Linked DNA regions of Homo sapiens: region 2 is linked to region 1. The links come from fine-mapping of genetic effects on gene expression. A gene starts in region 1. The other region holds a variant in brackets. All regions are shown on one strand. Distances are from middle to middle. Region 1 holds the start of RCL1 (RNA terminal phosphate cyclase like 1). Region 2 overlaps RCL1 (RNA terminal phosphate cyclase like 1).

Region 1 (4,389 bases):
TCAAACAATCAAAACAATTTAACTCATGGAAATAGAGAGTAGAAGGATGGTTACTAGAGACTGGAAAACATAGAGGGGGTGGGGATGTTGGGGGGCAGGTGGGGATAATAAATGTGTACAAAAATTAGAAAGAATAAGATCTACTATTTGATAGCACAACAAGGTGTCTGTAGTCAACAATAATTTAATTTTCATTTAAAAATAACTAAAACAGTATAATTGTTTTGTTTGTATAATAACACAAAGAATAAAATGCATGAGGGGATGAGTACCCTATCCTTCAGGATGTGATTATCACACATTGCATGCCTGTATCAAAACTTCTCCCGTACCTCATATATACATGTACCATCTACCTACAAAAATTAAAAATTAAAAAAATTATATGGAACCACAAAAGACCCAGAATAGCCAAACCTGTCCTAAGCAAAAAGAACAAAACTGGAGGAATCACATTACCTGACTTCAAATTATACTACAGAGCTAGAGTAAACAAAATGGCATGGTACTGGCATAAAAACAGACACATAGATCAGTAGAACAGAGCGGAGAACGCAGAGATAAATCCACACAGCTACGGTAAACTCATTTTCGACAAAGTTGCCAAGAACATACTCTGGGGAAAGGACAGTCTCTTCAATAAATGATGCTGAGAAAATTGGATATCCATATGCAAAAGAGTGAAACTAGATCTCTATCTCTTGCCATTTACAAAAATCAAAGAAAAATGGATTAAAGGCTGGGAGTGGTGGCTCACACTTGTGAGGCCAAGGTGGGCCAATCGCTTGAGGTTAGAAGTTTGAGACCAGCCTGGGTAACATGGCAAAAACCCATGTCTATACAAAATACAAAAATTAGCTGAGCATGGTGGTGCACACCTGTAGTTCCAGCTAATGGGGAGGCTGAGGTTGGAGGATTACTAGAACTCGGGAAGTTGAGGCTGCAGTGAGTCATGAGCATGCCACTCCACTCCACTTTATAACACACTGTTGTCTACATAAGGCTAGCTACATCCCTTAATCTTAAACTCCCACCGCTTTCAGACACTATCATACCCCGCCCCCCTTCCCCCCGCGAACCCCCGTGCATTCTGGGACTCATGGTTTGGTGAGTGTTGTCCAGGAATGGCTACAAACCCACATTACTATGATATCGGACTTCTACTTGTGTAGTCATTTGTTAGTTAACTGTACATTTTGGAAGGTTTTTGAGTAGAGAAGTGAAATAATCCAACGTTTGGGAAGATTTTCTTGTGCAGGATTGGAGGAGGACGGGAAAGAGGGAAAAAGCATTGCGCGCGTGTGTGTGTGTGAAGTTATTACAACTATCTATCTTGAAGCATGCGAGGTAGGAGGGCCTGAATTGCCATGAAACGCAATGACGATAAACGAAGGGACCCGTGAGAAAGGGGCAAAGAGGTGTCTCAATAAAATAAGCAACGGCCTGCTGTGGGAGGATTCGGGTCTCAGTATAGGCTGCCACTGTCAGCTTTGCAATATTCCTCGAGCCTTTATCCATGAGTAGGACAGGATGGCTCTACCTTGCAGGGTTACAGCATGGAGCTGCGGGACTGCGCCGGCAGTGCGCTGAGCGGCATCCCTGCGATAGGGTGAGTGCACCAACCCTTGTTGTCTCTCTTAGTAAGAAAGAGGAGGGGTAGATAATAGCATCTTCACCCCAGTAGTTGCCGTAAGTAGTAATGCTAAGAATCCGGCACGTCGTAGGCATCAATCTCAGTCCGCCATCTCCCCTTGCTACCACGCCAGGAGGTACACAGAGGAGACTGCCCCGACTGGCAACTCCCGCGCCGGGGTTCCCTGGCCATCCTCCCGCGTTCCCTCCAGCCGCGCGCTGTTGCCAGGGCCCGGGCACCGCCCAGCTCCACTACGGACCAATGGCAGCGCGGCTTGGGCACCGCCCAGCTTCAGCGGAAGCCAATGGAGGCGCGGCGCGGGCACCGCCCTGATCCGGCGCGGGCCAATAGCGGCGTGGCCCGAAGCGGGGGCCGCCCCGGTCGGGCGGGGAGGCGGGGAGGTGGCCACTGGCTCCGCCCCGCTCCCCTCTGACCCGGTGTCTAGTCTCTCCGTCTTCCTGTTCCAAACCACGTGGACGCGTCTGGGCTGCTGGAGGCAGCCCGAGCCGCCGCCGTCGGTGTCGCCGCCACCACCACCATCGGAGTCACGAGTCCCGCGTCTGTCCGAAGTCGCCGCTCTCGGGCTGCTCACGTCTCTTCGGAGAGCGCGCACATGGCGACTCAGGCGCACTCCCTCAGCTACGCAGGGTGCAACTTCTTGCGCCAACGTCTGGTCCTGTCTACCCTGAGCGGGCGCCCCGTCAAAATCCGAAAGATTCGGGCCAGAGACGACAACCCGGGCCTCCGAGGTAACTTGGTGTGGGCGGCGCGCGGCGTGGGCGCGGGGGCTGAGGGGAGACCGAGCTGATGCCGTGGGGGCCCGCGCGGTGTTGGTTGGGCGGCTCGGCGTCCGGCGAGCGCGTCGGGGAGGGCAGGTGGCGCGTCGCCTCCAAAGCCGGAGGGGCAGGCACAGTGGGGGAGGCGGGGTCGGGGCCCGAGGGGAGCGCTCAGCTGCAAGCTGCGCTCGGCGTCTCCGGGGCGCTGGTAGTAAACAGCTGCACGTTTTCCAGCTTTACGTGTAGCAACAAATCCCTGGCGTCGCCCCTTCGCGTCCCTTCGGCCCCTCTTGCCCTCGCCATAAACCTCTCAAAGGAGAAAAACAGTTTGTTGGACCGAAATATGGTGAATGAGCCGGGGGAGAGACATTGGGAGAGAAAAGTACCTTGGGTTGGTTCTCTGCCCTGTCTCAAAGCAGTTCTCAGAAGCAGCTGCCCCCTTGGACACCGGCTGTTCCTGTCGCCATGATTTCTCGGCTGCCCTCACACTTGTCCTTGGGTGTGGATAAAGAAATTTTTAAAATTCTGTGTTTGTTTTCAGCCGTGACTGTGATTGATGTGCGCAGGACAGGAGCTTTGAGATAGACTTTTAACAGTCATGGGCCTAATTGCCTTGACTTTAGAAAAGGGGTCGGTGACAATCGCTAAACTGCAGGCTTCCAAGCTCACTTCTTGCTCTGCAATGGTAGGTTAAAAAGAAATAGGCCCATTTAAACCCACATCTCATTAAATGGCGCCGGTTTTCAACTGGCCTTGGTTTACACCTGGCCCCCTGGCATGAGATACATGCATTTAAAAGCTTCTGACTGGTGGTTATCCCAAGTTGGGCGAGTCAGTAGTCAGGTGAAAAAGGAAAAAACCTGTCTGTAAATTGAAAAAGAGTGTTTGTGGTTGGTCCTGGAAGCTTCCTGAGCGGCGCTGATGTGTTTCATTTTGCACTGGCTCTTGTTTTATCTGTCTGAATGCATTTTTTGGATAGTTAGATCTCTGCCTCTCTTGGGTGGTGATTGGCTGCACATAAAGGGCAGAAGATGCCATGCTATTGACGGAGATAGGTTAGGAAGGAAAGAAGCAGAATATCCCAGGTACAGTGGTGAGAAACCTAGTGATGGTAGGAAAAACTTGTGTTGGTGGTTCCTGTCCTCTCTCTACTGCTCAAAAACACTGAGAAAGTTAGGGAGAGACCACAAATGGTTTATGCCACGACTTTTCCGTCAACAAGTGTTCCACTTAGTTTGACCCTTGGGCAAAGTGTTTGCTTGATTGCTGTGTGGCATTCTCAGCCAGCTCTCCATCCACTTTACCCTCAGGTTAGCTCAGAGAACTTGCCACTAGCTGGATATGGTAAGAAGATGGACTTCTACTTTGTATAAAAGTAGGCATAACTTTTTTTTTTTTTTCCAGAGAAATGGAAGTATAGCCTGGAAACCTGGGTTCTCTAAAATGAATCTAGTTCTATTTAGAGTTTTTCTATTGACAGGTGGCCTCCAATTTAATATTTAATGTTCCAAAGTATGCTTCTCCTTCTCCCCCTCCACTGTATGTGAGCATCTCTTCAAAGCATCTCACACATATGAGCTCCCGTTTCTTCCAAGAACAGGGCTTGGCCACTTGGCACTTTCTTGAAAGGGTGTCAGACGCTGATACCTGAGGGAGGTAGAACTGCTTGGCAGGTGTGCTGGTATTTTATGGGGAACATTACTGTAGAGCATTATTTGCCTTACCCCGTTCATATACCAGGGGAAGAAAGAGACTCCTAGTTATTTGTACATCCTTGCGCTGGCTTCAGGGCCTCAGAAACCTTGTAGATGTTTGTCTGCTTAATTTCTTTCTTTTTTTTTGAGACAGAGTCTTACTCTGTCTCCCAGGCTGGAGTGCCGTGGTGCGATCTCGGCTCACTGCAACCTCCGCCTCCTGGGTTCCTGCAATTCTCCTGCCTCAGCCTCCCTCGTAGCTGGGATTACAGGTGCCTGCCACCAT
Region 2 (4,389 bases), 51 kb after region 1:
GAATCATTTCAGTGTGAATGGGCATCATTTCACTTCACATCTGAGGCTTTGCAGGTTGTGTCTCCTAAAAATAAGAATATTAGAGTCTGGGGTTAACTGTTGTAGGTTAAGAAGTCAACTTCTTCTTAAGTGATGCCACAGCTGATCCTTTTTCACAGCTGTTTCACCTGTGGTTTCTTTTAATTTCAGCAAAAAGAGGAAAAGAGAGTAAAGGAGGGGGGTGAGTGTTTTATACAACCTTTGACCTTTATAAGGCCCAATGGAAAGATGAAGGTAGTTTTAGAAATACAGTGGAGGCTCATAGTCCAAAGCAACAAAGCTGGTGGCGTCATAACGCTGGGGTTGGGAAAGGATTTGTGGGCAAAGCTGGACTTTCTGGCTTGGAAAAGTCAATGATGTTCCTAAACCTTTGGTTTATATTCTAGTAACAACAGTATTTTCCTCATTTATGCATTGAGGGTGATGATGCCTATGTTTTGGGGTTATTGTAAAGATCACACATATAAGCCATTAATACCTTGCTTGTCACATGGTAAGTCCTACAGAAATGGTAGCTCCTGATGCTGTTCTTTCCTTTACTCTCCCTTGTTGGCCACAGGTCTGGAATTATGTGTCAGCTATTTTCTGGAGAAAGGGGATTTCCGAGGGATGGGGGAGGACAGATAGCAGCAGAAGCTGTCTAAATGGCTTCATCTCGATAGTCCCTTCTCTGCTTTGCCTCTCGCTTTATCAGAAAGTGTCCTGGCATGAAGCAGAGCAGGCCTGACAGCCATCCTGCCACCAGCTTATAGTGTGGCTTTTTGTTATACCACTGACTCAGCTGACCCTAGAGTGTGGTCAAGTCCATACTTACTAATGGTGAGTAGAAGCCTTACACGTAGATAAAGACATGGACATGATGTAGACTGTGGGCCATCAACTCCAAGCCCCATTTTAAAAATTACATGTAAAACCAATGTGGGATTTAAATTTGTGTTTGGTTTTTTTAAATCTCCAGTTACAGATGACTAATAGTGCTCTTCCTTCTCTGTTATTAAAATTATAAAGTCATGGATGGGTATTTCTCTCTTCTGATTCAGTGAAGTATCCAGTAAGTCAGGCTTGTTCAGATGTAAGAGTTTATGTTGTGGCCATGGCCTAGAACCTTAGGGGACAGCACTTCTTGGTGGCCTATGTCAGCGCTTTGGCCAGAATGCACATCAGTCCAGTGTGGTCCCATTTTAACTCTCACAGTAATTTTTTTTTTTCTTAATTGGGTCCTTTACCAAGGAAAGCTGTGGAGGCTGGCCTTTGCAAACTATACCAGTGCATATCTCTAATGAGGTCACCTGATGACCAGCAGCTTGGTCAGCCTAACTTGAAATAGGCCTGATAACACATATTTCCCACAAGTTGGGAAGAAAAATTAGAGTAATTTACATAGAACCTAATATATATTCTTTGTCTTTTCTAAAGTTACTTAAATTGTGTTAAATGGAATAATTCTGATTAAATATAAAGTTTATCGTAATGACAAATACACCTTAGAAAACTCACACAGATGGAAATTCTTGGGAAATGCAGGTAAATGGGTAAAGCAGCAGTGGCACCTTGTCTTGCTTTCTCTCCCCTTCATCTTCTAATCTTCACTTTTGTATGCCACTGCCTGCAGCCACTGCTGGACACCCTCTCACTTCTGCTGGTCAGGTGACTCAAAGGCAATTTGGGATTATGCTAAAATTCTCTAGGTGTCCCATGATGATAGGTGGATAGCACAGTGTTAGATTGTTAAGCATAACTCAGAGTGCCTCCCAGAACCTTTGATGAAATGGGTAACTCACTGCACCCCCTTTCCTTGGCAGGTGTTGTTAACCTTCGACTGCATAGACAAGCAAATTTTTTTTTTCCTTAAGAATCTAAGGACTGACTAACATAGTTCTTCTATATAGTGAGCTCATATAGTGCATTCGAAACATTAATTTTATACATAGTTTTAGTGAAACAAGTATTTTGGCTAGTCTCCTGCCAGACACATAGAAAGTATTGTGTGAGCGTGTGTTGAGTTGTGTTAAAGGGGGCAGGTCTGTGTTGTGG[T/C]TGCATACGGATTGTACTGCTGGGAAGGCCGCCACACCTTTCCTGTTGATGTGTCTACTTAACAGTCATTGGGAAAGTAGAATTGAGCTGTCAAATCTTAAAATTTTGTGGAGAGATGCTTGTTTTTGGACTGATTTTCTTTTCTGGTCAGCTAGTAAACTAGTAGCAACTCTATGAGGTTAATGCAGCCAGAAAGAAGCCTTTGAACACAGTGCCGTCAAAAAAAATGTTTGTCTTCTCTTTCCGTTTGCTGGTGAGTGGAAACCTCACTTGGTTAAACCTACTCAGTGTTTGTGCCTTTGTATCTCCAGGTCTCCGGGCTTTGGGTTGTCACTGGTTGCTGAGACCACCAGTGGCACCTTCCTCAGTGCTGAACTGGCCTCCAACCCCCAGGGCCAGGGAGCAGCAGTACTTCCAGAGGACCTTGGCAGGAACTGTGCCCGGCTGCTGCTGGAGGAAATCTACAGGGTATGTCCACAGCTTCCTCTGATAGAGGAGTGACCAGGAAGCAGTTTGTTTTCTCATTCTCATCTCTTGGCAGCTTTCGTCCTCTTCCAAGGGCTCAAGCCAAGGAGATAATCTGTTCCTGTGCATTAAGCAGTTCAGCCTTAACTAGTTTAATTGATTAGCTCAACCAGTCAGTGAGTAGAGATCTAGCCCCACTGGGTTGAGACACAGGGCAGGTAAGTTTTAACAGTGAGCCAAGGAAAGAACTGGAACAGTCATAAAGGAAAGGGAAGGTTAAAAAAAGGAAGCAGGTAAGGTAAGGTGGTGGCTGACACACTGCCCTAGCCAAAGAGAGTACCATCCCGGCACCCCCCGATTGCTGCCATGTGGGAAGATGGACTCATTCTTTTTAGATCTTTTAAGAGAAGCTAGAAATCTGGATTTGTATGTGACAGTTGATTCATATATAAAACAATAGCAACAGGCTAGATTTTGCAATGCATTCTAGAGCACAGAATCTCAGTTAACAGATAAGTATTAGAAAAGAAGAAAAAAATTTAAAAAAGCACAGAATAACTAGGGAAGGCAGGCCTGTGGCACAGCATAGCAGAAGCTTTGGAAAACCTAAGAACATGGAACAGAGAAGGGGTAAACTGATGTTGAAGACAGACTCAACCAGTTGTCATTTTGCTTCTGCAGGTCTGCTGGTGGGACACAGCTGAGACCAATTTGCCCTCTCAGTTGCCACAGTCTTTCTCTGTTGATCCTTTCATTGCAACGGGCACATATGCATGCACACACTTTTACTGTTTCCTCAAAATAGGTGAGGTGACCTAAAGTAAGGGAGAAATTTGGAAAGATGATGGCAGAAAGAATAAGATACAGTTTCCTAAAAGATATATTCCCTGAGATCCCCTATACTTGGTTAGAAGAGGGTCACAAATCTGGGTCCAAGATTTCTGTTAGTCTGCACCGTCTTTTGCCTTGGTCCCACATCAAGAAGGTGAAACCTTTTCTCTGACATGCAGAGTCCAGGAAAGGCTCTGAAGGATGGTCGTTTCTCTGCTCTGTGTGTTAGGTCCCAGATTCTTGAACTGAGCATCAGCAAGAACTATACTCTAGTTGATTTGCTGTTGTATGGTGTATAATGTTTGTAAATCATCTCTCTTCTTCCCCTAAGGAGCTGAAGAGACTTCTTTCTTTGTATTGTTCTGTGTATTTCTTCTCAGTTGTCAGGCATCTTTCTGGTCTCCAAGTAAGTTTTCTCGTTTATGGTAGCAAAAATCACATCTGAGCCAAGTTAAATAAAATCAGTAAAACAGGTAAAGTGGCAATTTAGTTTTTCTTTTAATTCTTCCTTTTGCCACTGGTTCAGTTTATTAATCAGGGTGGTAGGGTAAAGCCTGACTAGCCATAGGTATTGATCCTCAGACCAGCCTCACAGTGGAAAACAGCTTATATTTATAGTCTACTCCCTTGATCCAAGTCAGTGTTCTTGAAAATGTCTCATTGGTCCAAGATGGAACACATGAGAATGAGCTGTTTCAGAATTAATTAAATTTCCAGGTCCTAAATGGCTCTATTTAATGACCATCTAATTAAAAATGGAAGACAGTGGACCTATAGTTTTATTTTCAGGAGAGTAGCTCCAGCCCCTCTACTCGGCATTCACCTGGGAAATAGTAGAAGAAGGAGATGAAATCTTCCTGAAGGAGGAGGTATTCTTTGACAAGTCTTGTGCAGTCACGATCTGGCCTCAGATGTTTTGGTGCTAAATCAGTTTACTTTTTTATGCTAAATTTAATAATTTTGTGAAAAATGGGTAGTAACTAAAAGTTTGGGGTAGATGATCAAGAGGTTGCCCTGCCA

The links. PIP is the estimated chance that this variant, and not a neighbour inherited with it, causes the effect.
Region 2: its variant is the best candidate, but not a certain one, in a credible set for the expression of RCL1 in whole blood (TOPMed, PIP 0.52).

Annotation. Positions count from the first base shown.
Region 1 is chr9:4,790,846-4,795,234 of GRCh38, forward strand. It overlaps RCL1 (RNA terminal phosphate cyclase like 1), which reads left to right and starts at 2,099. Exons shown (of 9, transcript NM_005772.5): 1 at 2,099-2,382. The coding sequence starts at 2,247. RefSeq lists enhancers at 1,356-1,405, 2,226-2,275, 2,350-2,849 and a silencer at 1,786-2,145.
Region 2 is chr9:4,842,141-4,846,529 of GRCh38, forward strand. RCL1 (RNA terminal phosphate cyclase like 1) reads left to right here. Exons shown (of 9, transcript NM_005772.5): 7 at 2,385-2,541. Among named protein-coding and RNA genes, the nearest start is that of MIR101-2, 6.0 kb to the right of the region's middle. RefSeq lists a silencer at 169-463. The variant T/C (reference allele first, on the strand shown) is at 2,074.